7 linked regions of the Homo sapiens genome follow. The protein of the gene in region 1 interacts with the protein of each later gene in a biochemical or structural test. Each region holds a gene or a part of one and is shown in the gene's direction. Other genes may lie near its edges.

Region 1 (4,286 bases):
CAATTTTGGGAGGGTGGGGGAAAGTGATACTGGCCTCTGGCGGGTAGAGGCCAGGGATGCTGCTGAACACCCTACAGTGCACAGAACTGTGCCACAGCAAAGAAGCATCTGTTCCAAAACGTCAACAGTGCTGCTGCTGAGAAACTCTGCTGTAACTTCCTAAATTGAACTGGTGTGGGGACAGCTGGATTCCAGTGTGGTTCTGCTACTGACCAGCCCTGTGACCTCCAGCAGGTTGTTTGCCCTCTCTGTGCCTCTATCACCTCATCCATGAAATGAGCAGCTTGAGGCAATGGGCTGAACGTAGGTACCCTCCAGCTCACAAATTCTATGATCCTTTGACGTAACAATGTTCCCCTGGACATTGTTTCTGGTTCAGCTGTATTTTTATTGATTGAAAGAGGGAACTCATTAGTTACCGAGGATTTGGGGATACCTCTCTCCACCATCCAAAAATGTCCATTTGGAATCACAATTATTTTATTCTCAGGAGATTTTGTTCTCGGCTCAGCAAAGCTCTAAAACAGTGCAAGAACTTCTGTTCCACTGCAGAGGCAGTAAAACCAGTGTACCAAAAACTAAGGTTACTAACTATCCTGGTTTGCCCCGGACTGATGGGTTTCCAGGGACACTGGACTTTCAGTGCCAAGACTGAGACAGTTTATGGTAAATAGGAGGTTGGTCCTACTAACAAAGACATCTACAATCATGGAATGTTTATTTTTCTTTCAGCTACAAAGCCGTTTCTTATCATGCCTCAGGCCACAGTGTTGCCTACAAGCCTGGAGGCTTCAAGGCCAGCACTGGCTTTGGGTCCAACACCAAAAACAAGAAGATATACGATGGAGGTGCCCGCACAGAGGACGAGGTACAATCTTATCCTTCCAAGCACGACTATGTGTAATGCTCTAAGACCTCTCAGCACGGGCGGAAGAAACTCCCGGAGAGCTCACCCAAAAAACAAGGAGATCCCATCTAGATTTCTTCTTGCTTTTGACTCACAGCTGGAAGTTAGAAAAGCCTCGATTTCATCTTTGGAGAGGCCAAATGGTCTTAGCCTCAGTCTCTGTCTCTAAATATTCCACCATAAAACAGCTGAGTTATTTATGAATTAGAGGCTATAGCTCACATTTTCAATCCTCTATTTCTTTTTTTAAATATAACTTTCTACTCTGATGAGAGAATGTGGTTTTAATCTCTCTCTCACATTTTGATGATTTAGACAGACTCCCCCTCTTCCTCCTAGTCAATAAACCCATTGATGATCTATTTCCCAGCTTATCCCCAAGAAAACTTTTGAAAGGAAAGAGTAGACCCAAAGATGTTATTTTCTGCTGTTTGAATTTTGTCTCCCCACCCCCAACTTGGCTAGTAATAAACACTTACTGAAGAAGAAGCAATAAGAGAAAGATATTTGTAATCTCTCCAGCCCATGATCTCGGTTTTCTTACACTGTGATCTTAAAAGTTACCAAACCAAAGTCATTTTCAGTTTGAGGCAACCAAACCTTTCTACTGCTGTTGACATCTTCTTATTACAGCAACACCATTCTAGGAGTTTCCTGAGCTCTCCACTGGAGTCCTCTTTCTGTCGCGGGTCAGAAATTGTCCCTAGATGAATGAGAAAATTATTTTTTTTAATTTAAGTCCTAAATATAGTTAAAATAAATAATGTTTTAGTAAAATGATACACTATCTCTGTGAAATAGCCTCACCCCTACATGTGGATAGAAGGAAATGAAAAAATAATTGCTTTGACATTGTCTATATGGTACTTTGTAAAGTCATGCTTAAGTACAAATTCCATGAAAAGCTCACTGATCCTAATTCTTTCCCTTTGAGGTCTCTATGGCTCTGATTGTACATGATAGTAAGTGTAAGCCATGTAAAAAGTAAATAATGTCTGGGCACAGTGGCTCACGCCTGTAATCCTAGCACTTTGGGAGGCTGAGGAGGAAGGATCACTTGAGCCCAGAAGTTCGAGACTAGCCTGGGCAACATGGAGAAGCCCTGTCTCTACAAAATACAGAGAGAAAAAATCAGCCAGTCATGGTGGCCTACACCTGTAGTCCCAGCATTCCGGGAGGCTGAGGTGGGAGGATCACTTGAGCCCAGGGAGGTTGGGGCTGCAGTGAGCCATGATCACACCACTGCACTCCAGCCAGGTGACATAGCGAGATCCTGTCTAAAAAAATAAAAAATAAATAATGGAACACAGCAAGTCCTAGGAAGTAGGTTAAAACTAATTCTTTAAAAAAAAAAAAAAGTTGAGCCTGAATTAAATGTAATGTTTCCAAGTGACAGGTATCCACATTTGCATGGTTACAAGCCACTGCCAGTTAGCAGTAGCACTTTCCTGGCACTGTGGTCGGTTTTGTTTTGTTTTGCTTTGTTTAGAGACGGGGTCTCACTTTCCAGGCTGGCCTCAAACTCCTGCACTCAAGCAATTCTTCTACCCTGGCCTCCCAAGTAGCTGGAATTACAGGTGTGCGCCATCACAACTAGCTGGTGGTCAGTTTTGTTACTCTGAGAGCTGTTCACTTCTCTGAATTCACCTAGAGTGGTTGGACCATCAGATGTTTGGGCAAAACTGAAAGCTCTTTGCAACCACACACCTTCCCTGAGCTTACATCACTGCCCTTTTGAGCAGAAAGTCTAAATTCCTTCCAAGACAGTAGAATTCCATCCCAGTACCAAAGCCAGATAGGCCCCCTAGGAAACTGAGGTAAGAGCAGTCTCTAAAAACTACCCACAGCAGCATTGGTGCAGGGGAACTTGGCCATTAGGTTATTATTTGAGAGGAAAGTCCTCACATCAATAGTACATATGAAAGTGACCTCCAAGGGGATTGGTGAATACTCATAAGGATCTTCAGGCTGAACAGACTATGTCTGGGGAAAGAACGGATTATGCCCCATTAAATAACAAGTTGTGTTCAAGAGTCAGAGCAGTGAGCTCAGAGGCCCTTCTCACTGAGACAGCAACATTTAAACCAAACCAGAGGAAGTATTTGTGGAACTCACTGCCTCAGTTTGGGTAAAGGATGAGCAGACAAGTCAACTAAAGAAAAAAGAAAAGCAAGGAGGAGGGTTGAGCAATCTAGAGCATGGAGTTTGTTAAGTGCTCTCTGGATTTGAGTTGAAGAGCATCCATTTGAGTTGAAGGCCACAGGGCACAATGAGCTCTCCCTTCTACCACCAGAAAGTCCCTGGTCAGGTCTCAGGTAGTGCGGTGTGGCTCAGCTGGGTTTTTAATTAGCGCATTCTCTATCCAACATTTAATTGTTTGAAAGCCTCCATATAGTTAGATTGTGCTTTGTAATTTTGTTGTTGTTGCTCTATCTTATTGTATATGCATTGAGTATTAACCTGAATGTTTTGTTACTTAAATATTAAAAACACTGTTATCCTACAGTTGAATAGCTTCTGCTCTTTTTTCATATGTTTTGGGAAGTGGAGGTGGGAAGTCCCAGCACCTCAACGCTGGATGCTTCTTCATGGGAGTTTTTCTGCTTTCAGAATCCATTTCTGCTCAACAGCAGCCTAGCTACCTAGAGCTAGGTGTCGTTCCAGACCAGTTTGTGGTTTCTGCAAGTTGGGAAGCCTTAATGAAGAGGAGTTCCCAGAGCAACCAGGCATGCAGCATGGGGTCCAAGGATCCAGTTTAGCCTGTCTGACCCTAAGCGCACAAGCCCGAAGTGTCTAATGTCATTGTCCTGTTTGTGGGCCAGTAAAACAAGAGAGCCAATGCCTGCCCTCTTGATGCTGCCAAGGTTGGGTTGACCAGCTCAATAAACTGAGGCTGTATCCAAGCTACAAAAGCAGCATAAGCTATATAGTCAGAACAACCCAACCTCAAATCCAGGTCATACTACTTTGCAGCTATGTTAGCTTGAACAAAGCCCTTAAACTTTCTGAGTCTCCATTTCCTTATCTGTAAAATAGGGATGATAAGAATAATGGAATAATACAAGTAAAGGACCCACTTAAGTGACAGTAAACCAAGCTTCACAACTTTAAGACAAAGAGGGCAATGCTTATGTAACTGGGGTATCTGAGGTCAGGGTTGGCTTCAGACACAGCTGAATCAAGGGTTATGATTAAGACTCTATTTTTCTCTGCCCATATCTCAGTTCTGCTGTCTTCTCTGTTGGTTTGCTTCTCAAGAAGATTGTGAGTTGTTGTGTTGGCTGCTTATATTTCTAGCCATAAAGCCATGTTTCAGCTATGGGAAACCTAGCCAAAGGGAGGCATCTCTTTCCTTCTATGCATAGGAGAAAAACCCTAA
Region 2 (4,293 bases), on another chromosome or scaffold:
CTAGTCTCTGTTCTATAATATTTATTATAGGTTAACAAGAATTACTCTGGAAGTAATATTTTTATGTCTATCCAGTAGTTATTTTTGCAAACTAATACAATAGTACAAAAGGCACAGTGTTGAAAGATCTTAATTTTTGAGTGAAACTTACTTAAAAGAAGTCATTTTCCCCCCTGAATCTTAGTGTAAAGGCAGCTGCAGTCTGCTGACAGCTTGTGGTTATGCTCTGATTTACTGGGGAAGGAGGAGGTTGTACTATTTTAAATGCATAATAGAGCATTCGTTTCGTCATCTGGAAGCAGAGATGGAAGAAGCTGGGGGGAAATGAGAGACATCACTGTTGCTTTCGTGGAGGGAAGCTTTGTAGCATGTTATCAGACAGCAGTGCATATTGAAGAAAATATCTGTTAGGAATGCATGTCACCAGATGTATTTTGCTTTCAAGAATGGTAGACACATCAAACAAGAATCAGATAAAAGCCTGAGAAAAAGATGTTCAGAAGAATACTGGAGTTATTCTTTATGCTTCACTGCCCTTTACCTCTCTTGGTACCTTCCAGAGAAACAAGTATAGATGTATTTTTAGCTTGCCGTTTCCAGCATCAATATGACAACATGATTTTGTCTTTATATCAGTAAGCAGCTTCTACTATGTTTTCCTATTTTCTGCTAGCTACAGTTTACAAAGGATGTCACAGCACTGGTAAGAAATGCACAGTAGCCATTTCCTTGCTTTTTAAGTCATGTTTTGTAGAGATTTGTAATAAGCCAATCTATTAAAAACTGTTCACTTTTGCTTAGAGAAATCCCTCTATCGTGTTAATCTTACTAATTTGCAGAATACGTTTGTGATAGATGGTTTGCCATCCTTATTTTTTATTTTTATGTTTGGTTTTCTTTTGTATCCTGTACATAACTGATGCTACAGCGTAATATTTATCTGCATCAGTATATATATATATATATATATATATATATATATATATATATATATATATATATGTTTTTTAAGTATCTCACCCTCTTCCTGTCACTACTACTTTGCTGTTACGTTTGTGGCTGCACTTGAGCTTTGCAAGCTGTCGAATGCAAAGAGCAGGATGTGATGATAGTCTTGAGTTAAGCTTGTTTTGATTAGGGGAAGATGTGTTACCACATCTGTCTCAGATGCTGAACATAGTCCCTGTGTTGCACTGATGAGCTCTGTTTTGTAAAGTCTCTATAGTTGATTTCTGTTATTCTTAAGGCTTTAAAAATATTGCTGAATAATTTTACAAATAGTTGATAAAAAACTATTTAGGCTGCATGCCTGCCTGTTAGTAATAGAGAAATGTCTCCTTATAATAAGTAAAGGAGACCAAATAAATTTGTATGATATACTTTTGCATTAGCTTAAAATAAAAATATAAATTATATACAGAACGATGAGTTACCTTTTTTCATGTTTTTCTGCCTTTATTATATGTGCTTTATTTCTTAAACTTGCATATTATCTTACTTTAAATATTAAAATACTTAGCATGGCTGCTGAAGGTCTTAATTTGTCAAAATGGATTATTCTTAGGGACTCTGTAATGGTTAATTGACAAGATGCTTCAAATAAATTAGACTTAATTTATTATAGTAGTAGTACTTAAAATGCATTTAAGATTTTTAATATTTTCACCTTTTCTCTGGCAAAATACATGAATCTTCCTTTGCTGGGATTTATTTGGCAGCCATTTAACCTGTCAACTGCTGAAACTCAGAAGGCTTGAATGGGGAGAATTTTAGAAGTAATGTGGGTACATCTAATTGGTTGGGTAGAAATTTGATGAGTTTCACATGTTTTGAGCAAAGAGGTGATTGTAATTTGTATGTGTTGCAGATTCTACAGTTTATTTGATTTCTGAGAGACTAGCTCTTTCTAGATTTGTAGAGTACCCTTATGTTGTGTTTGCATGCATGCTATAGTGAATGTCACTCAGGAACGAGGTAGGACATAGATAAAATAGTGCACTGTAAAAATGGAAATTATTATTCTTTTTATGAATTTCCAGTGACACCTTCCTCTCATTTCTATACAGGCATATTCTCAAGATGCCTACCTGAAAGGCAACGAAGCTTATAGCGGCAATGCCCGCAATATACCTGAACCTCCACCAATCTGCTATCCCTGGCTGCCATCTGCCCCATCAGCCATGGCACAGCCAGTTGAAATATCTCCTCCTGACTCATCATTGAGCAAACAGCAAACCAGTACACCAGTACTGACACAACCTGGTAGGGCCTATAGAATGGAAATACAAGTGCCTCCATCACCAACAGATGTTGCAAAATCAAACACAGCAGTGTGTGTTTGCAATGAAAGTGTAAGGACTGTCATTGTGCCTTCTGAGAAGGTTGTAGATTTGTTATCCAATAGAAACAACCATACAGGTCCTTCACATAGAACTGAAGAAGTGAGGTATGGCGTGAGTGAGCAGACCTCTTTAAAAACAGTGTCAAGAACCACATCACCACCATTATCAATTCCCACCACTCATCTAATTCATCAGCCTGCAGGCTCCAGATCACTGGAACCTTCTGGAATTTTACTTAAGTCTGGAAATTACAGTGGACATTCTGATGGAATCTCAAGCAGCAGATCTCAAGCTGTGGAGGCTCCCTCTGTATCTGTTAATCACTATTCGCCAAATTCCCATCAGCACATAGACTGGAAAAACTATAAAACTTACAAAGAGTATATTGATAACAGACGATTGCACATAGGTTGTCGGACAATACAAGAAAGATTAGATAGTTTAAGAGCAGCATCTCAAAGCACGACAGATTATAACCAGGTCGTCCCCAACCGCACTACTTTGCAGGGACGACGTCGAAGCACCTCTCATGATCGAGTGCCCCAGTCTGTCCAGATACGGCAACGCAGTGTGTCCCAAGAAAGACTGGAAGATTCTGTGCTAATGAAGTATTGTCCAAGAAGTGCATCTCAAGGAGCACTGACGTCTCCATCTGTTAGTTTTAGTAATCATAGAACTCGTTCATGGGATTATATTGAGGGACAGGATGAAACCTTAGAAAATGTCAATTCTGGAACTCCAATACCTGATTCCAATGGAGAGAAAAAACAGACTTACAAGTGGAGTGGGTTTACTGAACAGGATGATAGACGAGGTATTTGTGAAAGACCTAGGCAGCAAGAAATTCATAAATCTTTTCGAGGTTCCAATTTTACTGTGGCTCCAAGCGTTGTTAATTCTGATAACAGGCGAATGAGTGGTAGAGGAGTGGGATCTGTGTCGCAGTTTAAAAAAATTCCACCAGATCTAAAAACATTGCAGTCAAACAGAAATTTTCAGACTACTTGTGGAATGTCACTGCCTCGGGGTATTTCACAAGACAGGTCACCTCTTGTGAAAGTCCGAAGTAATTCTCTGAAAGCTCCTTCCACGCATGTCACAAAACCATCATTTAGCCAGAAATCATTTGTTTCTATCAAAGACCAAAGACCAGTAAATCACTTGCATCAGAACAGTCTGTTGAATCAGCAGACATGGGTAAGGACTGACAGTGCCCCCGATCAGCAAGTGGAGACTGGGAAATCCCCCTCTTTATCTGGAGCCTCTGCCAAGCCTGCCCCTCAGTCGAGTGAAAACGCTGGTACTTCAGATTTAGAACTACCTGTCAGTCAAAGGAATCAAGATTTAAGTTTACAAGAGGCTGAAACTGAGCAATCAGATACTTTAGATAATAAAGAAGCTGTCATCCTAAGGGAAAAACCTCCATCTGGACGCCAGACACCGCAGCCTTTAAGGCATCAGTCTTACATCTTGGCAGTAAATGACCAGGAGACCGGGTCAGACACTACCTGCTGGCTGCCCAATGATGCACGTCGAGAGGTCCACATAAAAAGAATGGAGGAAAGAAAAGCCTCGAGTACCAGTCCGCCTGGCGATTCTTTGGCTTCCATCCCATTTATAGGTGAGCTCATTTAGAGTCATTGGCTAATATGCCAAATGTATAAGAAATCTTTCCAGAAAAGTATTATTTCTAGTTCAATAGGCATAGAAGTCTTACACTGTGATTTTAAAATGTTTCTAGTGAATCTCATAAGCTGTGCTTCAACCAGAGCTTTCACAAACCTCTTTAAAAGTTATTTCTAGTACCAATTTTCCTTTTTTTAAAAAAAAAACAAAAACTTCATGTACCTAGTACCCATTTCAAATTTTTATTTTGATGAAACAAATTCCTGAGATTAAGGAAATCAGCGAAGCAAATTATACCTAATTGTTGATTCAGGTGAATGAAAAA
Region 3 (4,961 bases), on another chromosome or scaffold:
ATGAGAAGACAAGTTTGGAAAAAACAGTAAAAGATTGTTGCAGATATTGTGAAATGTTTTGCTAGCTAGCAGGGAATGTCAATATAGATAGCTTTAAGCAGAAAAAAATGTAAAACATTGTGTTTTTTAGTTTTTTTCAAGTAATATAACATAAGGTTATAGGGGGAAAATACCAAAATGAACAATAATTTTCCTGACTAAATAATGAGCCAAAACTCTTTCCCCTAGCAACCACTATTAAGTTGCTTGTGATTCCTTCCAGAACCACAAGAATATGTCTACATAATATTCTAATATACTACAGTGTATAAAGAATATGTATACATAAATATACGTAAATATACCTGGTCTTTATGTACCTATTTGTAATAAAAGGAAACATACTAGGCTATTCCATACCTTTTGTCACTTAAAGAATTTTCTAGGCAATTGTTATATGCCAGCACACACAGATCTACTTCCTTCCTTTACACAGCTGCATAGCTGGTTTTCTACTGTGTGTGAACTACAATAATCACTGTTGATGGGCACTTCAGTGGCTTTCAGTTTTCTGCTACTACCAAAATACACTGCAAAGAGCATCCTTTCTCAGATGCTTTGGTGAACTTTTGCAAGAATGTCCATGGGGTTACTTCTTAGCAGCTGGGTTTACAAAGGATATGTACATTTACAAATTTGATGAATATTACCAAATTCCCTGCAGAGAAGTTGCACTTATCTGTAATCTCACTATTGGCATATGAGAGTACTCATTCTCCATGCCCTCACCAGCACTGAGTTTCATCAGATTTTTTTTTCGAGACAGAGTCTCGCTCTGTCACCCAGGCTGGAGTGCAGTGGCCCGATCTTGGCTCACTGCAAGCTCCGCCTCCCAGGTTCACGCCATTCTTCTGCCTCAGCCTCCGGAGTAGCTGGGACTACAGGCACCCGCCTCCAGGCCCAGCTAATTTTTTGTATTTTTAGTAGAGACGGGGTTTTGCCATGTTAGCCAGGATGGTCTCGATCTCCTGACCTCGTGATCTGCCCGCCTTGGCCTCCCAAAGTGCTGGGATTACAGGCATGAGCCACTGTGCCCGGCCTCAAATTTTAGTATTTTATTCTGTAGTCAGGCAAAAACTCATGTTTTCTTTTTAAATAAATACGTCTCAGTTTTGACACTGCTATTGATTTAAAGGGCTTGAGAGATCTGTTCTTTTGCCCCTTCTACTACAGAGCTATGATCTACTTCTTGCTGTTCCCCATCTCTGCTGGTTCCTTTCTGAATCCAAGCACCAGAAAGAGTAAGAATTCCTTTCCCCCTTTCTCTAACCACATTTTTCTTGCTTTCTCACAGACAGATCCAGGTTATCATTTCCTCCTGCTGCTTTCACATGGTTCCCTGTCCTGTTGGTTGCAGGTCCAATGTCTGACACTATGAAAGGGCATGGAGGACTCTTGAGTTGATGACACTAAGCCTCTGCTCTGGGGCTGCCCCCAGTTCCTTGCAGAGCTCTTTCTTTTGATTGGGCCAGGAGATAAAGAGACATCAGCGTAAAAGCCCTGCTGAGCAGCAATCCCATTGCCTTCAGTGGCACCTAATCCACTTGAGCTCTTCCTGGCTCTCTCACGGGTCACTGGCTTTGAGGACGCAGGCTGCTGGGGTGGCAGTGCCTGCTAACAGGCCAGAGACTGCGCAGGACCCAGGGAATGAGAGTGGTGGCAGGAAAGGGAAGGGGCCTTGTTGACTCACTCGCTGGGCAGCAAGTGCTTAGTGACAAGCAGTAAACAAAGACAGCGGCAACAGTGCTGGTGGCAGGGAGCTCCGCGGACAGACTTGCAAGAGACCCCTGCTCCTTGTTGGAAAGTTGTCCCATGATGAAGGCCTAGACCTGGTCACGGAGACTTTTGGATGCAGCCTTTAACGAAGGACGCAGGTATTCCTTGGCATCATTCAGTTTTCTCCTATAAATCTGGTCAGGGAAAGGGCAAACTTCTTACTGGGTCTAGGTATCCGGAATAAGAAGAACACAGCTGGGCAAGGACCTGTGTCAGTGCCCTTTGTGGTATTATTTGGAGTATTATTTGTTCCAGGCCATTGGCTAAGCCTGATAGACATTGTATTTGTTTTTTAGCAATAAAGAATGGGCTCAGAAGAGAAAACATGGACTTTAGAATCAGACCACCCCTTGTTTGAATCACTGCTTTGCTATTCAGCATCTGTGCAAATTCAAATGACTCTTTTAACTTTCCTAAGACTCGTTTTTCTTACCTGTAAAATGGGGATAATAATGCCCCATGCGTTACGATGTTGCTGAGGATTCATGGGGTGACACGCGTAAGGCACTTAGAACATACTTGGAGCATTTGAGTAGCCCAGTAAATCATGGCTGTCACTATCTTTCAGAAGCAAGTGTTTTGGTTATTGCTTAAAGAGTATCAGTGGTTTAAAGTAAGAAGACTCAGGGTATGCCTAGCTGACTTCCAGAAAACAATGGAAAAGAAATGATTCACCTGGCTTTATTTGTATGCTTAAAGGAAAGAAAAAACTCAGTTGAGGTTTTCAACAGTGTAAACAACTTTTTTTTTTTTTTAAAGCAACAATTGAGTTCAGAGATGAGTCGTGTCTATTTCTCCTGGCTAAATCCTGTGATTTGCTATAGGCTGTAGCTGAAACCAATTAAGTAGTTCATTAATTCAACGAGAACTTACTTGGTATCTCCTGGGGCCACATGCCAAATGCTGGGGATGTCTCCCCCAGCCCAGAGGATCTTCCAGGTTGTAGGACAGTGGGGGTCGGGGGGCAGAATGCTGGACCTGCATGAAAACTGGCGGTGATAGCAAGTGCCGAAATGGAGGTGGCACGGGCTCCTGGGAGAGGTGTTGCTTGAGCATGGCTTTAATGCTAAGCGAACACTAGCAGGAGTTGGGAGCAGGGGGATTGGAAAAGGCATCCCAAGCAGAGAAAAGCACATGCAAAGGCCCAGTGGCATGAATAAGTAAAGCATGCTCTGGGAACAGCAGGCAGTTTGGCCTAACTTTAGTAAAGTGGGAACAGGGGAATCTGATAAGAAAGGAGGCTGCAGAGGTGAACAGGGGAGAGCAAGGAAGGCCTTCTATGGCCCAGAGTTCACTCAGAAGGTCCCAGATAGGCACTGGTAGTTTTAATGAAGGATGTGTCGTGTCTGCATTTAATATTAAGAAGATTAATCTAGTAGCAATATGGGTGTGGGATTGGAGAGGATGAAACCTGGAATGATGACAGATGGCCTAACCTAAGAAAACAACAGTGGAATGTAGAGAAGGGGAGGTCTCCAAGCTGGTGCTGCCAGCACTGTGAGCAAAAACAAATACATATGCATCTAATAAGTTCATTATAAATTTTACTGATATGAAGGATGTATATTGCACAATTTACAAGTAATAAAATATAAAATACTCTTTATTACAAATTCTATATAGCCATTTGATTCTCACAGCATGCATTTGTTGATTTTTGCTGAACTCTTATACCCTTGGTCAGCCTGTTTGCAATTGACCACTGAATGTAGTTCCAATATGAATGTTGGTTGATATTTTTGTTTACATTGACAAGTAAGAAGAAAGTGAAACAATGAAGATGATTGTCTTAACTTCACTCATCTGTCAATGACATGAGTGACTGCTGGATCAGATCATAGTTTTTGAATTTGGAAGAGTGTTTTCCCAATTTTTGTGTTATTCACAATGTAACAACTATGGACGCGACACACTTTTAGGTTTAATCTGCATGAACATTTTCTCCATCACTTTCTTAGTTTTCTTAGGGAATGAAAAAACAGCAAACCAAGCCCTAATTTGTAGCTTTTGCCAATTTTTGTGGTATAAATACTACCACCATGGCCAATCACAAGCTCCCAATGTGATATCGCTGAACACAAAGGTGGAAGGGCTGTGCACCAGCACACCATTACACAGTATTTCCATCATAGAAATGTATTTCATTTAAATAAGTTCCAAAGCACAGACAACAGTAAAATGCAGTAAAATAATTTGGAAATGGTGAGTTTCAACATATTGTTAATATAACTTATTTAATTGGAGATTTTTATAATACTTTTTGGTAATGGCTGTGTTTAATGACCAGCTTACAAAATTTCTGGAAATTTAACAATTGGCTCTCACAGGCCAGTAGGAGCCTTCTTCAGCATATCACAGAATCCAAGAAAGGTTTAAGGAGCAGAATACAGAGTGGTGAGAAAATGACTCATGGGTGCAAATGAAGGGGGCACGAAGGAAGAATTAGGAAGAATACTTCCTTCTCTCTGGGGATGAAGCTGTCACTCACCAAAATGTTGGACTTATTAAAAAGAACACCATGAATAGATGACTATGAATTCAACTGCTCAGGAATAGCAAGGGCTGCGGTGTGCAGCCCAGGACAATGCTACCTGCAGCTCCATTAGTGAAGTCATTTCTGGTCTGAAACCCCAGTTTTGCTGGCTTGTCTCTAGCCTATTCCCTGCCCTCTCCATATACTCAGGATTCATAATATGAATAGCTAGGATTTATTGAAAAACTGCCATATGCCAGACACAATAACTCATGGTATAAACGAGTAAAGAGAGGAAGTAACTTGCCCACGGTGAGGTGGGATCAATCCAGCTCTGACCTCGGAGCCTGCTCTTCCAGCCACTATGCTTTTCTATTCTCATTCCCCTCCTGAATTGTATTCACCCTGAGATATCAGTGTTTTTAGCTGCTTTCCTGGCAGAAGTCTGCTTTCGAGGCTGATTCCTATTCCTCAGGCTTCCTTTTACTGGTCGCTGGCAGCTCTACTGTTAACTGCCCTCCCTTTTTTTTTCTTGCCTTGGCTGTAAGCCTCCTTATTCCTGTATTTGCTTGAGCTATCATAGCCCAACATTGTTGGAAATAGAGTAGGTAGTGAAGGGAGGCAGGAAGGAGATGTGTAGGATGGTGCACAGGAACCAGTTCCAGGAGGGCTG
Region 4 (3,843 bases), on another chromosome or scaffold:
AGGCCGAGGTGGGCAGATTACTTGAGGTCAGGAGTTCGAGATCAGCCTGGCCAACATGGTGAAAACCTGTCTCTACTAAAAATACAAAAATTAACTGGGTGGGCTGGTGCACACCTGTAGTCTCAGCTACTCAGGAGGCTGAGGCAGGAGAATCGCTTGAACCTGAGAGGCAGAGGTCGCAGTGAGCCGATACTGCACCACTGCACTCCAGCCTGGGTGACAGAGTGAGACTCTAAAAAAAAAAAAGAAGAAAAAAGAAAGAGAAGAGGTAAATGACACAGCAACAGAAAAGGAATAGGGAGGAATAGGGACCACGAGGGATTGGGGTCAGAGAGAGCCTGCCTTTTCCATGTGTGAGGACACCCTTGACATTGGACAACCCCCATGTATTTGGCCCCCAGGGCTGGCATTTCTCTTTGCTTAGAGTCTGGAGAGAGTGCTAGTTGCTCCCAGGCTTGAGTCCCACGTGGCTGCTGGAGAGAGGACAAGCTCAGCTAAATGGCCTCAGCTGCAATGACTGTAGGCGGGCCTGGCCAGATGAGGAGGGATAGAGAGAGACCTCTCTTTGCCAGCCCCTCTTTAGGACAATTAACAAAAATTTCCTAGCTGTTGAATCTAAAAATAGTTGTGATTAGCATGCTGTTTTGCATGTGATTCACATGGTAATTTGCCATAAAACTGCCCAGATCCTCTCGCCACCTCTTTTGTTTCTGTTTTGGATTCCGGCCTTTCATCCCCTTCTTATAGCTTGCCCCTCTTTGTCCCCTCCCCTCCACTCTTCCCACCCTCAGCCCTGCATTCTCGCCAGGCCTGTCTGTTTTTCTCCAGCTGGAAATACTGCTGGCTAACCTTGGCTTCTATGCACTTCCTATATAGTCAGCCCTCTGTATCTGAGGGTTCTGCATCCACTGATTCAACCAACCGCAGATCAAAAATATTTGAAAAAAAGAAATATGTCTATACTGAACATGTACAGATTTTTCTTGTCATTATTCCCTAAACAACACAGTATAACAACTATTTACATAGCATTTACATTGTGTGAGGTATTATAAGTAATCTAGAGAGGCTTTAAAGTACATGGAAAGATGTACATAGGTTACATGCAAATACTATGCCATTTCGTATCAGGGACTTGAGCATCTGCAAGTTTTGGAATCTTCAGGAGTCCTAGAGCCAATCGCCCATGAATACCGAGGGACAACCGTGTAGAGCTGGAAAAGAACTTGATTTCAGTAAGCATAACAAGCCCTATCCCTGTTCCTCCAGGTCTGATTGTGCTGGCCACAATCACTCCTGAATCATCGCTGGACTCAGGTCATGAAACCAACTCTTCAGAGCTCACAGACATGTCAGAGATGATGTCGGCCATGAAGCAGCACCAGAACACCACCTACTTCCTGGCCCAGCACCTCAACAAGGACAGCCTCCTTGCCCGCAAGGACCTGCCCTTCCGGATCCAGAGCTGTGCAGCCCAGGCCGTTCTTACGGCCCCTTACTCTCTTGGGCGCCCGGATCCCAACCCATCTCTCCAACCCATTGCCACAGGCCAGAGTCCTGGCCCCCCTGGCGCTCGGAGGAAGCTGCCCCAGTCAGAGGGCCAGGTACAGGGAGAACGAACATACTCCTTGGCAGTGCACCCAGCACTGTCCCCACAGCTTAGTGAACAGAAGAATCTGAGTCTGCTGTCCCCAGTTCCTGAGGACAAAGGGCCTGGCCACACTAGGGCAGGCCTAGAAATGTCACTGAGGGCAGCCACATCATCCCTCAGTGAAGAGCAGGTCTCTGAGCTGAGGGACAACCTGCCCAAGGAGGTCAGGTTGAGCCCCAAGCTTATCCTCGACCCAAAGAGCAGTGTGACCCCTGCCATCATCTCGGCCGCCCTACAGCAAGTGGTTCACAATAAGAGTCTAGTCACTGCTGGTGGGGCTTTGGGGAACCCCCCCAGCAGGGGTGAGAGAAGGCTGGAGGCCAGCATGGGGAGGCCAGAGGTTAGCATGATGAGCAGCAGTGCCAGTAAGAATCTGAAGTTCAAAATTAGCCCCAGTGCTCCAGAGACCTCATGGAATTCTCAACATCAGCTGGGTGCAGAGGTCTCTTCCAGCCCCAGAGCACCCACAGGCAGCCGGGCTGACAGCCTGCACCTCTCCCAACAAGAGGACAGTCTGCCTGTTCAAAATTTCCCTCCCAAAAGCTATCTTTTGCGAACAAGCCGAGAGTCAGTGGGCAAGCAAGCTACAGGGGAGGTGGCAGGCAAAGGCGGGCCAGTGGGTGGTAAGCCCACCCTGCAGAAGCAGGGCACCATCTCCAGCCAAGGGGAGAAGGCGCAGCTGGAGAGCACACCCAAAAGAAGCAAGCTCGAAGAGACCAGCCTGGTTCCCCGAGCTACCTACCCCATGGCTCTGCAGAGCCCCAGCTGCCAGTCAAGAAGCCACAGCCCCAGCTGCCAGCCTCATGGCCACAGCCCCAGCAGCCAGTCTCGAGGTCAGAGCCCCAGCTGCCAACCTCGAGGCCAGAGCCCACTGAGGTCTCAGGCTGCCAGCCGGCAGGTGAGCACCATGCCCTCTAGGAAGCTTGAAACAACTCTCAATGGAGCCCACTCGACCTCTGAAGGCCCTGCCAAACCCAAGTCATCCCGAGGTCCTTTCCGGCTACGCAATTTATTCTCTGCCACCTTCCCAACCCGCCAGAAGAAGGAGACAGATGAGCGGCAGGCCCAACTGCAGAAGGTAAAGCAGTATGAACTGGAGTTCCTTGAGGAACTTCTAAAGCCACCAAGCCAGGGGGAGCTGCCAGGCACCGAGTACCTGCAACCTCCAGCACCTGGCCGCTGCAGCTGCCAGCTCCGCAGCAGCCCTGTGCAGCAGGGGCCTGGCATGTCCCGTGAGCAGAGGCGCAGCTGTGACTGCAAGCGCATCTGCCGGGGGGGCCGGCCACAAGCCACCCAGACACCAGTGCCCAGCCTCCGGGGGAGGGAAAGGGACAGAGTCCTCCCTAGCCAGAGGCAGCCAGAGGCTGGCCCAGGCGTGAGCCTCAGCAGCCCCATCAATGTCCAGCGCATTCGTTCTACCAGCCTGGAGTCCCGAGAGTGCCGATCGGACCCTGAGAGTGGTGTTTCGTGCCTGACCACGTGTGCCTCGGGGGGCGAGTGTCTGGGAGCTCCCAATTACAGGAAACTGATGCGCCGCTACAGTATCAGTGAGCTGGACCAGGGTGACAGGGCCTCGCTGACCTCGGATGTCTACCCACATCCTCCCCTGGGCATGCTGCCCAGGGAGGCCAAGGAGGTAGAGGCAAGCCTCCCCATAGCCTTGGGTCCCAAAAGCAGGTCTCTGGAGTCACCGACGCTGGGAGACCCCTCCTACGTCCAGGTTGCCCCAGAGACCAAAGGCCCCAGACAGATGGCCGTGTTCTCACTGCCCGAGGAGGTGTACCGGAAGCCTGCCGAGCTAGACGAGGACAGTGAGAGCAGCAAGTGCTGCTCCATCCGCTACTGCTTCTACTACCGCAAGTGTGACATGGCAGATGATGCCAGTGATGGCAAGGATGAGCTCTCCTACTCTATCCCCATGAAGATCCTGCCTGGCATGAAGCTGGACGAGCAGGTGGTGCCTGTGGTGAGCAGGACCCTGCAGGTGCTGGATGCTGCTACCTGCAGCAGCAGCAGCCCTGAGGCCTCCCGCACTCAGGAGATTGACCTCCGTGTGTCCACCTTCGAGGGGAGCCTGGCCAAGATCAATGCCCTGCGGGCCCATGCCTATGGCCTCCCTGATGGCTTCCTGGCTGCCCGGCTGGACACCAACGAGCTGCTGACAGTCCTGCGGCAGTGTGTGGCCAGCCCCG
Region 5 (4,293 bases), on another chromosome or scaffold:
TATGAATCATTCTGTGTGACTATGATACAGATTTTATATTTAAATTAGGCTCATTTAAACTCACTAGGAGAAAGAGAAGCACCAATTTCATAAAAAATCCATGGATAAGGGCTTGAAATGAAGGTCAAGAAAGAGGCAGTAGCAGCTGTCTTTTGTCTGGGTTTCACTGAATGACTTGGTCTCTGCGCTTCTCCCCTCACTTCACTTTGGATGAGGTTAGGGTGGGGCAGAGTCTTAGAATGTAGGAGAGCCCCATAGTCATCAGCTCTGTAAGGTGTCTGTGCTGGGCCTGTGGCTCCGGAAGGGGCTGGTGTGGGTGATGCAGAGACTCAAGGGTCCTGTCCTGTACAGTGACAGCAGGGATGGTTAATCCCTGTGACTCTGAGGGGTTAGAAATAGGGGTCTTGGAAGTGGGCTCTGCATGGTCTGGAGAGGGAAGAAAGGCTTAGGACGCACATCGGTCAGGTTTCTGTCTGCTAAGCCGGGGGAAAGCCATGTGACCCTGGGCAAGTTACTCAGCCTCTCCTGACCTCAGCTTCTTCATCTGTGAACTGGGAGTTAGAACAAATGACCACAAAGTTCTGTTCCGTTTTCATCATCTGTAACTCTCTAAGACAGCGCTGTCCAGCAGGACTTCCTGCCGTGGTGAAATGTTCTCTGACTGCACTGTCTCATACGGGAGCCACTGGCCGCATATGGCTAGTGAGCATGTGAAGTATGGCTGGTTTCTTGTCTTAATTTATTTAAATTTAAGTAGCCACATATAACTAGTGGCTACCATACTAGACAGTGCAGCTCCACGATACAGAAGAAACTATATTCGATAGAGGAAAATGTAACAAGATCTCAGCGTGGCAGTTCATGGATGTCACAGGCAAATCATGCCAACTAGGAATAATATAAATTCTCCTGAACGCACAACAACAACAGTCCTGTTTCCTTTGAGGAGGCAAGAGTCCTATGAAGCAGAACCATCCGCAGAAGTGAGACAGAAGGAAAAAAGCTTTCAGAAGGGATGGGCTGTGCATCTGCATGAGCTTGCCTGGCAGAGCCTGGTTCAGTAATGAAACCACCAGAGGAGCTGGACACATTTCCCTGTCACCCTTCTAAAGCAGCGGGGAAGGGAGCAAAGTTTTCAGCAGTTTCCAGATCCACCCTGCCTCCTATCCCTTTTCCCCAAAACCATGTGACAGTGTCTAGGCCAGATGCGGTCAGGGGTGGTCAGTGGGCCCTGGGTGTACTCAAATCCCGCTGACAACCTATGCAGCTGAGGTTCCAGGGAAACATACAGCCCCCAGCTGCCAGGCCCCTACAGTCAGTAGTGTTTGCTCTAATAAAATATTAACCCAGTTATTAATATCTCCTCCTTCCCCATGATGAAGGAGTTTATCCGAGAACAATCCGGCACAAAGCTACCTGACCCAGAAGTCATCCAGTTCTGTGTCTCCATCTTCAAATGCTCCAGGCTCCTGCTCACCTGACGGCGTTGATCAGCAGCTCTTAGATGACTTCCACAGGGTGACCAAAGGGGGCTCCACCGAGGACGCCAGCCAGTACTACTGTGACAAGGTGAGCGAGCGCAGGCAGCCGGGTGATCCACACACCCAGGGCTTCCCGGCCTCTTGTGGGCAGCTGAGTAGCTCTAACTAAATGAAAATATCTTATCACCAACTGCTGGAGAGAGATGTGATGCAAATGACCACTTTCAAACCGTTTTCCAGAATGATAATGGTGACAGCTACTTAGTCTTGATCCGTATCACACCAGATGAAGATGGAAAATTTGGATTTAATCTTAAGGTATGTTGTGTATTTATAAAGGAAGTTTTGTGCTGGGAAGCAATCTTTCAATGAGTTTTTAATTTGCATTACAAATGTGCTGCATTCCTGAGCTACATAAGGAAGTTGGTTCAACCCTCAGAATTGAGAGTTGGGGGTTTTTTTTGTTTTTGTTTGGTTTGAGATATTTGGGGTTTTTTTTGTTTTTTTTTAAAAACTCACTTTATCGCCCAAACCTAGAGTGCAGTGGCACGATCGCAGCTCACTGCAGCGCTGACCTCCCCAGGCTCAGGTGATCCTCCCACCTCAGCTGGGACTATAGGGATGCACCACCATACCCAGCTAATTTTTTTCATATTTTTTGTAGAGATGGGGTTTCACCATGTTGTCCAAGCTGGTCTCAAACACCTGGCAATCTACTCACTTTGGCCTCCCAAAGTGCCGGGATTACAGGCGTGAACCACCGCACCCAGCCTAGAATTGAGAGGTTTTTTTTAATGTGGCCTTAACAGCTGCCGAAGGCCAAGTGCCTGCTCTGTGCCTGGCATTGGCTATCCACTAGATTCATAGCACCTTCTTAAGTTCTGATAACAAGTGGTAAGGTCAGTATTTTTAAACCCATTTTGCAAATGAATACTGAGGTTCCCAGAAATGAGGGCACACAGTTGGCAAACAGATCTACCCACTTCAGGAATGCTATTAAGAGAACCCCTCAGCATTGCTAAAGCTGATAAGAGAAAAACAATTCAAGTTCAACCTGCAGGGCCACCACTCTCCTCCAGGCACCTTTAAGCAGGATCTGCAAACTAAACCCACAGGCCAAATCCCATCTGTTTCTGTAACTAGTTTTTTTGGTAACAGCCACAGCCATTTGTTTACTGGTGGGTTAATGACTGCAGAGTTGAGCAGTTGAATCAGAGCCCTCACTCCCACAAAGCCTCTCTGGCCCTTTACAGAAAACGTTTACTCATCCCTACTCTAGGACAAAGTGAGGGCAGGTGGTCGCCTACCCCCCAGCTGCCATCATGCACAGCCTCATCTGCCCCAGCAGCTGTGTTGAGGACCAGCGCTCACAGGCCAGATGCGCTCACAGGGTGTGCCCCCTTCCCAGGCCTCGCTCGCCTCTGCTGAAAGCCCCTATATATATATATATAAAGCCCATATATATATATATTAAAGCCCATATATATATATAAAGCCCATATATATATATATATATATATTTTTTTTTTTTTTTTAATTATTATAAGTTCTAGGGTACATGTGCACAACGTGCAGGTTTGTTCTAGCAGCACTCGAAGACATGCTGTGGAGTCCCTCTCTGGGGGCATCTGCGTTTTTAAGGAGGAGCTTCTCTCTGAGTGTATCTGTTAGTTCATGGACTGTGGGGATGGCAGAGGGAGGCTTCTGAACAGAGTCCTGGTCAGCCCGCTGGATCCAGAGGGGTCAGGAATTTGTTCCATATTTCTGAAATGACGTGTGATTCGAATCAGTCATAGTGAAGTTTGAAGCCTCCCTGTACCAAAGACTCACATTTATTGGTACCTCCATGTTGTTGATGCTGTGAGCTACTCGTTTTTTTGTTTGTTTGTTTGTTTAACTTAAAAAACTTTGTTTTGTTTTTATTTTAAAATGTTTACAGGGAGGAGTGGATCAAAAGATGCCTCTTGTGGTATCAAGGATAAACCCAGAGTCACCTGTAAGTAAATACATTCCATGTTATTCCTCGTGTTTGTTTGTTTCCCCCTAATTCTAACAGGTTTCTGTTTCTGAGTCCTGTTTCTTTTTTTGCCAGAGCAAAGAATGTGCTTAGATATACATCACCATGTTTTCTATAACCTTGCGGCTCAGTGTGGTCTTTGAAGCCATAGCACCCATGTTACCTGGGACCTCATTAGAAATGCAGCATCTCTGGCCTCAGCTTAGGCCTGCTGAACCGGAATCTGCATTTTTAACAAGAGCCTTGAGTGGTTAGTGTGCATTCAATTTTGAGAAGTCCTTTTCAAGAGAAGGAAACTTAGGCAGTCTGCTGTTCTGCTCACTCTAAGTGGGCACGTGGGCCCTGTGCCTCTTCTCACCATCTTTCCACCAGTGCCCCTTTTGTCATCTGTGTAGGCCTCCTAAGAAGAGCATTTGCTTTGTTTTTCTTTCAAATTTATTTTATTGTTTTTAGGCCAGGCATAGTGGCTCACACCTGTAATCCCAGCACTTTGGGAGGCCGAGGAGGGTGAATCACTTGAGGCCAGGAGTTTGAGACCAACCTGCCTGGCCAACAGGGTGAAACCCATCTCTACAAAAAATACAAAAATTATCTGGGTGTGGTGGCACACAGGTGTGATCCCAGCTACTCAGGAGGCTGAGGCAGGAGAATTCCTTGAACCCAGGAGGCAGAGGTTGCAGTGAGCTGAGATCACGCCGCTGTACTCCAGCCTGAGCGACAGAGTGAGACTCTGTCTCAAAAATAAAATAAATTTATTTTATTGTTTTTAAAATAATATCAAGTAATTTTTTCGTT
Region 6 (4,293 bases), about 64 Mb from region 1:
CTTTCTGGAGTGTTTGGGTAAAATCTCCCTCAGAGTCAAAAATATGATACTTGAATCAAAACTGTGGATGTTTTTGAGGCTCTGTTGAGTTAGTGGGTAGCATAAAGAAGGATGTTAAGCTTAGAGACAAGATGTTGATTTTGAACTTACGGAGAAAGGTTTGTTCCGGTGTTGGAGCCCTGCTTGGAACTTTTACCAACCTCAGTGCCAGCCTTGAGAACAGCAAAGGATGGTCTGGCCCAGAAGCTGCCCTAGATAGTTTCCCTGGCCTCAGACCCAGCCTGGCCTCAGCTGAGGCCTTAGGGAAGCTTGCTGTCTCTCCTTGCCCCGAAATTAACCCTCAGTGGCCCTTACTGAACGCTTTTGCTGTTCCTGGGTCAACCATAAAACTCCTCCCATTGGAAGCTGTTTAAGAACTTGTTTATTTCATTGGGCCGGCTCTCTGCTCCTGCTGGGTACTGTTTATTCTCTTCTAAAAGGCAGAAGGATTTATATGTCCTGGAAACTCTCATGTGCAACATTTTTATTTTCTTTTTAAAATAAGCCCTAATGTTTGCTTCTCTGTTATAAGCTGAAGGAGATTAGAAACACTCAGATTTTCAGTACCAGCTCTTCAGCAGCCTAGAACTTGCACAAATGATGTGGCATTCTTTAAATTATCTTAGGTTTCAGTTTTTTTGACACCTGCTGAACGCTTAGGGTTTGTTAGTGCTGTACCAGCATAGACGTTGTCTCTTCTGTTCTACCATGTGAGCTATATTAAGGATTCTCAAGCCTTAGCGTGATTGGAGTCACTGGAGAGCTTAACACAGATTCCTCAGTCTCACCCCTAGAGATTCTGATCCATTAGGGCTGGCCAGGGGCCTGATATTCTGCATTTCCAATGAGCTCCCAGATGATGCTGGTCCTTTAAGTAGCCGCTAAGCTAGACGAAGAGCTTACGCTCAGGTAGATATAGACCAAACATGTATTGGTCTTCACACAGTTATGGTTTCACTGGTCATTGTCTAAACACCTTCCTAAATTTCTTAAGACCAGGATAAAATTTTAAAACCCAGACTGCCTAGGCCGGGCTCAGTGGCTCACGCCTGTAATCCCAGCACTTTGGGAGGCCGAGGCAGGCGGATCACGAGATCAGGAGATCGAGACCATCCTGGCTAACACGGTGAAACCCCGTCTCTACTAAAAATACAAAAAATTAGCTGGGCGCGGTGGCGGGCACCTGTAGTCCCAGCTACTCGGGAGGCTGAGGCAGGAGAATGGCGTGAACCTGGGAAGCGGAGCTTGCAGTAAGCGGAGATAGTGCCACTGCACTCCGGCCTGGGTGAAAGAGCAAGACTCCGTCTCAAAAAAAAAAAAACAAAAAAAACCCAGACTGCCTAGCAGTTAAATGACAGGTAATCATAGCCTAGACAGGCATCTCTGATCTCACTGAGGCCACATCTGAGCTGCAGCAGACTTGGGATTGCTACACTTGAGTGAGTTAAAGAGTTCTGCTCCCAGCCTCAGTTTCCCATCCTGACTTACCCCCTGATTCTTAGAGCAAAAGCACTCCAGAGCAAACATCTTTTTTGCTTTTCTTTCTGGGAAAGGAACAATTCTGGACATAACTTTCCTTGGATTGATTGAAAAACTTGAGATACATCCTCGATACCTTTTGTTCTTTAACCTCCCATCCGGTCTGTCTTTGAATCCTGCGGATTTTACCTCCTAAATACATTTTGAATCTATTCACAGCTCTCCAGCTCACTCAAATGACCACCGTGGTCCAAACCAGAGTTTCTGAATCAGCACTGCCAACATTTTGGAATGGATAATTCTTGGGTGTGGGTGTGTTGTTGGTGGTGGTGGTAGTGGTGATGGGGGTGGGAGGCTGACCTGTGCATTGTAGGATGTTTAGCAACATCCCGGGCATCTACCTACCTACCTACTAGAGGCTAGTAGCGCTTTCCAAGTAGTATCAACAGTATTTGTGGACATTGCCAAACGTCCCTTGAGGGGCAAAATTGGCCTTTGTCTCAGACACTCTTGCCTGGACCATAACTCTTTCCTCTACAAATCTTCTTGCTCCTCTTCAATTCCTTCTTTACCTAGCATCAGGAATTAATCTCTTATAAATGTGTATCTTTTATCACTCTCCCTCAAGCCTCCTATGCTGTCCCATTTCTCTTGGTTGGCTATAAGGTCCAACATGCTCTGGATCCTACCGGCTTCCACCTGCCTGGATTCTTCTCCCCTTCATCCTCTTCTTTCAGCTTCTCATGTCTCTGAGAGTCGATGCATGTGCCCCTGAGCTCCTCTCTGCCTCCAGGCCTTTGCACTTGCTCTTCTGTCTACCTGGAACAATCTTACCAAGTACTCTGCACTAAATAACCTGCAAAATTTCCACTTCTCTCCTCTTGCCCACAGCCTTTCTGTCTGCACTTAGGATTTGCTTATCACTAGACAATGGTTCTTTCTATTCTCATCTCAGCTGAAGCATCACTACCTCTAGGAAGCCAGGCCTCTCGGACCTCGCAGACTACATCTGGTGCCCTGAGACTCTTACTTTGGTTATCCTCCTGCATGGCATTTATCATAGCTGTAACTAAATAAGTGGAAGAGTCTGTCTTGTCCAGTACCATGTCTGTGGCACTAATCCATTGCCATGTGCACTGTAAGCTCTTGATATGTATTCATTTGGTGATGAGTTCAAGATTGAAAGGCCTGTCTTGGCAGTCATCAAAACTTTTCAGGTTGCTAACCAAAAGTGGGCTCGTGTTTAAAAAGAATGAGTTTCTCCGTGATGACCCAGTTAACAAAATTGTTTTCAGGTTTAGGGGAGGCATTATTTTTGTTCCACTAGATCCACCCAGATCAAGTTTTATAAAGCCCCAAATCCTAGAAACTATTTTGTCCTTTTCAGAACTGGAAATAAGTAAATCTGATAGACAATTGTATCAAAAGGTGTTCCAGATGTCCAAACACTTTGAAATGTATCTGTTAGAGTATTCACCATGAAGTATATTTTGTTTCTGAAAAGCTCCTGCACAGGGCCATTCCATAGTATATCTAACAAAACAGCGCACTTCTGCTAAAAAAAAGTTACAGATTGTCACTTCTATTTCATTTCTGTGATTTATAAGGAAAATTAGGATTTGTTTTACAAATATGTTACCCAGCTACACTGGATTAAATGAGTATAACCAGACAATTTGAATTGGCAATTCTGTTGAGATTTGTCTGTAAGTGGCTCTTTCTGTGTTCAGAAATGGTGCTTGCCTCGCTATAAAAATATTTGATGAGTAAGAATCTATTTATAAGGCAATTATGCATTGGACCGTAGACCAAGGAGCTTAAAAGAAAAGAAAATAATATTCATTGAGTTCCACTGGGTGCCATACACTTAAGGTGCTTTCTGTATGTGCATACATTATCTTCTCCATGTTCTTCATTAGATAGACCTCTTTTTTTAATGGGAGTAGCAGATTATGAAAGATTAAGGCTAGAAGTTAGATTCTAAATGTAGAGCTGGGATTTGAACCCAGTGTGGCCCATCTCCGAGCTCACACTGTTACCAAAATAAGAAAAGAATTTTTTCCTGGGGCGGTGCCCTTCTCTGAAGTCTCACACAGGCTTTCAAAGCACCATTATTATGTATGCCAAGTACTGTTTGGATTGGAGGTGTACATGCATTATTTTATTTCATCCTCAGAAAGACCCTGCAAGGTCGGTGCTCTTACCCATGACTCTTTCCTTCCATTTTACAGATGAAAAAACAGAAGCTCAGAAAGTTAAATAACTTGCCAAGTGTCCTCCACTGGCTCATGTTAGTTTGCCTGTTGGCTTCTGGTCCATGAAATGTTTTCATCCCATACCATGTTCCCATTTACATAGGTCCAGTGTAGAGCACATGGAGTACAAAACAAAACAGATCCTGGCTGTGAAAGAGATTTAGGCTGGGCATGGTGGCTCACGCCTGTAATCTCAGCAGTTTGGGAGGCCTAGCCGGAAAGATCACTTGAGGTCAGGAGTTTGAGATCAGTCTGGCCAACATGGTGAAACCCAGTCTCTGCTAAAAATACAAAAATTAGCCAGGTGTGCTGGTGCACACCTGTAGTCCCAGCTACTGGGGAGGCTGAGGCAGGAGAATTGCTTGAACTCTGGAGGCAGAGGTTGCTGCGAGCCAAGACCAGATCGTGCCAGTGCACTCCAGCCTGGGCAACAGAGTGAGACCCTGTTAAAAAAAAAAATAGATTTAGACAAAAAAGAGATGATGTCCTGGATGGAATATGAGAACAGCTCTTTAATTTT
Region 7 (4,293 bases), on another chromosome or scaffold:
TCTGTAGTTACCTGTATTAATCTTTTGAAGGTAGTTCTCTTCAGATTACAAAAATTCTCAAATACTTTAAACCCTTGTATTTTTCTTGTGATTCTAGTAATGCTTTATTACTGTAAGAAAAACTTCTCACCCATCATTTTTCCAGTCTTTTACTTCCAGCCATTCTAAAGTAGAGGATAAATGAGTAAGAGCAGAGTTCATCTATAATAAAAAGATCTGTTGGTTCATGTAATGCCAACCAACACCCCAGCTTATCTGAGGTCAGCATAGTTACACACCTAGTTTGTACTTCCTCATTATTGAGTTTCCTTGGAGACTGATAAATACAAAGCCCAAACAATTACATCATCCCTTCTAAAAGGCAAGCCCTGAATCTGCCTGCTTTCTGGAAAGACCAGTCAGTATTCAGATGAGGGTAGAGATATTCCTTTTATGTACAAACCAGATGCATTCTTGAAAGATTCTTTAGAAAGTGAAATCATCCGAATTTTCAACCTGAATTTTCCATTGACTTCCATTCTAATTGGAAATGTGTTTCGGTGGAGGGAGAAGGGAACAGACCCTGGTTGAATATGTGCCACGAGCCAGGCACTGTACTTGACACTCTAGTAACTCACACAAATCCTTGTAAAGAAGGCTTTATCTTCTTCATTTTAAAGATGAAAAATGGGCTTAGAGGGGTATTCCTTGCCAAACAGGAAATTGCAGGGAAAAATTGAGCCAAGGCGGAAAAATAAAGACCCTTCCTTGGGGCTCTGCATCCTCTGCTGCTCCTAGGAATTGCCATGGTGATGGAGAGAAGAAGAAAGAATGACCATCCTGGCTGCGGCACATGTAGGCAAGGGTACCAGGCCACCCATCTGTAAATCTCTGTCTTCATGACCATAGCCTTTAATTACTATATATTATTTATTTGGGTAGCTGTGCCATAAAATTTACTTAACTACTCTTTGATAACTGCTGAAGTTTTGTGTTGTTTTTTATTTTTTGTTATTTATTTTTATTTTTTATTTGTGAGATGGAGTCTTGCTCTGTCACCCAGGCTGGAGTGCAATGGTGCAGTCTTGGCTCACTGCAACCTCTGCCTCCTGAGTTCAAGTGATTTTCTTGCCTCAGCCTCTGAGTAGCTGGGATTACAGGCAGGTGCCACCACGCCTAGCTAATTTTTATATTTTAGTAGAAACGAGGTTTCACCATGTTGGCCAGGCTGGTCTTGAATTCCTGAACTCAGGTGATCCTCTTGCGTTGGCTTTCCAAAGTGCTGCGATTACAGGAATGAGCCACCGTGCCTGGCCTGTTTTGTTTTTTTAGGGATGAGAGTCTAGCTCTGTCACCCAGGCTGATGTGCAGTGGCACGATATGGCACACTGCATCCTCCATCTCATGGGCTTACATGATCCTCCTGCCTCAGCCCTCTCAAGTAGCTGGGACTACAGGCTACTTGACTGTCTAACTTTTTTTTACGGATGGGGTCTTACTATGTTGCCCAGGCTGGTTTCGAACTCCTAGGCTCAAGCAATCCTCCTGATTTGGACTCCCAAAGTGTTGGGATTACAGGCGTGAGCCACTGCACCCAGCCAAAAGAGAAATCTTTTTTTTTTTTTTTTTTTTTTTTTTTGACAGAGTTCCACTCTCGTTGCCCAGGCTGGGGTGCAATGGTACAATCTCGGCTCACCGCAACCTCTGCCTCCTGGGTTCAAGAGATTCTCCTGCCTCAGCCTCCCGAGTAGCTGGGATTACAGGCATGCGCCACCATGTCTGGCTAATTTTTGTATTTTTAGTAGAGATGAGGTTTCTCCATGTTGGTCAGGCTGGTCTTGAACTCCGGACCTCAGGTGATCCGCCCGCCTCGGCCTCCCAAAGTGCTGGGATTACAGGCGTGAGCCACCACGCTCGGCCCAAAAGAGAAGTCTTAAACATAAAAATATTTTCAGGTTGTTTTCTTTTATTTTAAATTAGGTACTCAATAAAGCTTTTAGTTTTCATGATTTTTTTTTTTTAAGAAAGCATAAAAGACTTGAATATTTAACAAAAAAGGAGAGAAAAAAGGAAGTGCAACAGATGACAGGAACTCTTTTGGAGGCAGCTGTTCTGGGCCTGGGTGTTTTAAGAAAGAGACTAGAGTTCAGGAAGATTTTTCTGGAAAACACAGACACTAAGACACATTTTGAGTTCAGCTGGCTGCACAGAGCATGCATCACCTAGAAGCCATGGGTTGTCCAGACACCCATATAGAAAGGACCTTGCTGATTGGGCTATCAGAAAAGCTGTGATGCTGGCAGGAGGGAAAGAAAAAGTAGAAAAGCTGTAGTTTTAGAAAACAGGAATGTTAATTTCCAAAGTGGCTTTGCGGGTTTGTAAAGGAGCTCTGAGATGTTGTAGCTGTAGTAATTATTCACCTGACTCTTAACAAGTCTAGGGTGGGGGTGGAGGGAACTTTCTCAAATTACAGAAAGAGGGGAATGAGAACACAAGGAACTCAAAAGTCCTTTTCTGCAGCTCTGCTGGGTACCGCCCCTGTAACAGGTATCCCCGACCTTCTATCTGATTAGCCTTGTCTTTCTCCCAGAAGAAACAATAGATCCTTAATTTCCTTTACCCTTGCTCTGCAGGAGACTGAGACCATCTCTGCCTAGTCAGCAGCTGCTTCCCCTGTGACACCACACCCTCTTACCTTGCTTGTCTAACTTGCTCACTTATGGAGAATTTATCTCCACCTTTTATCATCTCCTGCTTTTGCACTGACCAAAGTGACTGCATATTTCTCTTCACCTAGTGCTTTAATCTCTTTGGTATGTGCCCTGAAAGCGTGTTTTAGCTCTGACTTGAATCTTACAGCCCAAAGCATCAAGGGCTGTCCTGCCCGAGGGTGCCTTAGAGGGCAGGCTTTGCTGGGCCTCAAGGAAGAATCAGAAGGTAGAGATGATTCAGGGGGTGTGAACTCGCACAGGTGCCCATTGTGGGAAACTTCCCCAGTCATTGCCCGTGTGTCTCAGTGGGTGTGTCAGTGTCCCTCAGCTAAAGTTTGGGTTGAACTAGGGCCATCTTAGCAGCTGGAACACCTCTCCCTGGCGCTCAGCCTGCACTGCCCATCAAGGGGTTTGCATTGGATGCCCCCCTTGATTTCTCCTCTGATCCCTGCCTGCAGGAGGTCCTGCACATAGGAAGCGCCCACAACCGAAGTGCCATGCCCTTTACCGCCTCGCCTGCCTCCAGCACTACTGCCAGGGTCATCACAAACCAGTACAACAACCCAGCTGGCCTCTACTCTTCTGAAAATATCTCCAACTTCAACAATGCCCTGGAGTCAAAGACTGCTGCCAGCGGGGTGGAGGCGAACAGCAGACCGTAAGTAGCCCAGGAGTCCTCCTCTGAGCCGCTCCTGGGAGGGGCTTTTCACATCAGGACCAGGGCTGCCCAGGCAGGTGCAAGAGCCACTACTCCAGGGAGAAAAATGACTACATTAGCAGAACACTTCTGTGTTCATTTTCTTCATCTACACAAAGGGGACAATACCTCCTGCTTTATAGGGTGTCTGTAAAAGTAAGAATTAATACGTAAAATGCCCAGCATTGTGTTAAGCACAAACAAATCACTTAATCCTCCAGAACTGTTTTTATTTGTGTTTTGATTTCTGTGGTCATCATCTTCTAATTGAACATAGTCCTTCCTTGACAGGCCTGCTGCTTCCCGAGAAATTCTTCAGTATTATTAGTCGGGGAGTGTTTGAGGGAATCTAGAGTAGCCTGTGCTTATGTCCACCATCTGAACTAAGCAAGGGAGAAATACTTCATGCTGCATAGTTTTGGTGAAGCAGTGTTTGCTTTTTCCCTAGAGTGGACCAGAGGTCATGAAAGAAGAGAGGTCCCTGAGGATATAAATGCTTGTCCTAGGAATAGGTTCTGATCTGGGGACAGAGGCAGGCTTAACTGGGGGAGAGGTAGGGCTGCAGGTGGAAAGGGGAGAGGTGTCTGAGGAAGTGCCTTGCTGGGGACTGAGGAGGCATGTCCTCTTCTGTCACAGATCATCTGGCTGCAGCTGCCTTTGAGTCTTTTTTTTTTTTTTTTGAGACAAGCTTTCGCTCTGTCACCCAGGCTGGAGTACAGTGGTTTGATCACAGCTCACTGCAGCCTCGACCTCCTGGGTTCAAGTGATCCTCCCACCTCAGCCTCCTGAGTAGCTGGTACTACAGGTGTGTGCCACCACACTTGGCTAAGTTTTACTTTTTTTTGTAGAGATTGGGGTCTCACTGTGTTGCCCAGGCTGGTCTCGAACTCCTGGGCCCAAGTGATC

Evidence for each region.
Region 2: the proteins of CLDN18 (region 1) and ARHGAP21 interact in a test that uses a peptide from one of them, tested with the Homo sapiens proteins (one large-scale study listed by IntAct).
Region 3: the proteins of CLDN18 (region 1) and FRMPD2 interact in a test that uses a peptide from one of them, tested with the Homo sapiens proteins (one large-scale study listed by IntAct).
Region 4: the proteins of CLDN18 (region 1) and FRMPD3 interact in a test that uses a peptide from one of them, tested with the Homo sapiens proteins (one large-scale study listed by IntAct).
Region 5: the proteins of CLDN18 (region 1) and PTPN3 interact in a test that uses a peptide from one of them, tested with the Homo sapiens proteins (one large-scale study listed by IntAct).
Region 6: the proteins of CLDN18 (region 1) and PDZRN3 interact in a test that uses a peptide from one of them, tested with the Homo sapiens proteins (one large-scale study listed by IntAct).
Region 7: the proteins of CLDN18 (region 1) and PDLIM1 interact in a test that uses a peptide from one of them, tested with the Homo sapiens proteins (one large-scale study listed by IntAct).

What each region holds. Positions count from the first base shown.
Region 1 is NC_000003.12:138,030,238-138,034,523, forward strand, and holds the end of CLDN18 (claudin-18), read left to right. Parts: intron 1-732; coding exon 733-904; 3' UTR 905-3,412; downstream 3,413-4,286. UniProt on the Homo sapiens protein: Involved in alveolar fluid homeostasis via regulation of alveolar epithelial tight junction composition and therefore ion transport and solute permeability, potentially via downstream regulation of the actin cytoskeleton organization and beta-2-adrenergic signaling.
Region 2 is NC_000010.11:24,619,143-24,623,435, reverse strand, and holds part of ARHGAP21 (rho GTPase-activating protein 21), read left to right. Parts: intron 1-592; exon of another isoform or gene 593-673; coding exon 674-703; intron 704-2,066; coding exon 2,067-3,963; intron 3,964-4,293. UniProt on the Homo sapiens protein: Functions as a GTPase-activating protein (GAP) for RHOA and CDC42. Downstream partner of ARF1 which may control Golgi apparatus structure and function. Also required for CTNNA1 recruitment to adherens junctions.
Region 3 is NC_000010.11:48,271,495-48,276,455, reverse strand, and holds the start of FRMPD2 (FERM and PDZ domain-containing protein 2), read left to right. Parts: upstream 1-1,759; 5' UTR 1,760-1,888; coding exon 1,889-1,913; intron 1,914-4,961.
Region 4 is NC_000023.11:107,599,034-107,602,876, forward strand, and holds part of FRMPD3 (FERM and PDZ domain-containing protein 3), read left to right. Parts: intron 1-1,269; coding exon 1,270-3,843.
Region 5 is NC_000009.12:109,407,505-109,411,797, reverse strand, and holds part of PTPN3 (tyrosine-protein phosphatase non-receptor type 3), read left to right. Parts: intron 1-1,382; coding exon 1,383-1,569; intron 1,570-1,721; coding exon 1,722-1,799; intron 1,800-3,420; coding exon 3,421-3,477; intron 3,478-4,293.
Region 6 is NC_000003.12:73,617,649-73,621,941, reverse strand, and holds part of PDZRN3 (E3 ubiquitin-protein ligase PDZRN3), read left to right. Parts: intron 1-4,293. UniProt on the Homo sapiens protein: E3 ubiquitin-protein ligase. Plays an important role in regulating the surface level of MUSK on myotubes. Mediates the ubiquitination of MUSK, promoting its endocytosis and lysosomal degradation. Might contribute to terminal myogenic differentiation.
Region 7 is NC_000010.11:95,262,919-95,267,211, reverse strand, and holds part of PDLIM1 (PDZ and LIM domain protein 1), read left to right. Parts: intron 1-3,148; coding exon 3,149-3,348; intron 3,349-4,293. UniProt on the Homo sapiens protein: Cytoskeletal protein that may act as an adapter that brings other proteins (like kinases) to the cytoskeleton. Involved in assembly, disassembly and directioning of stress fibers in fibroblasts.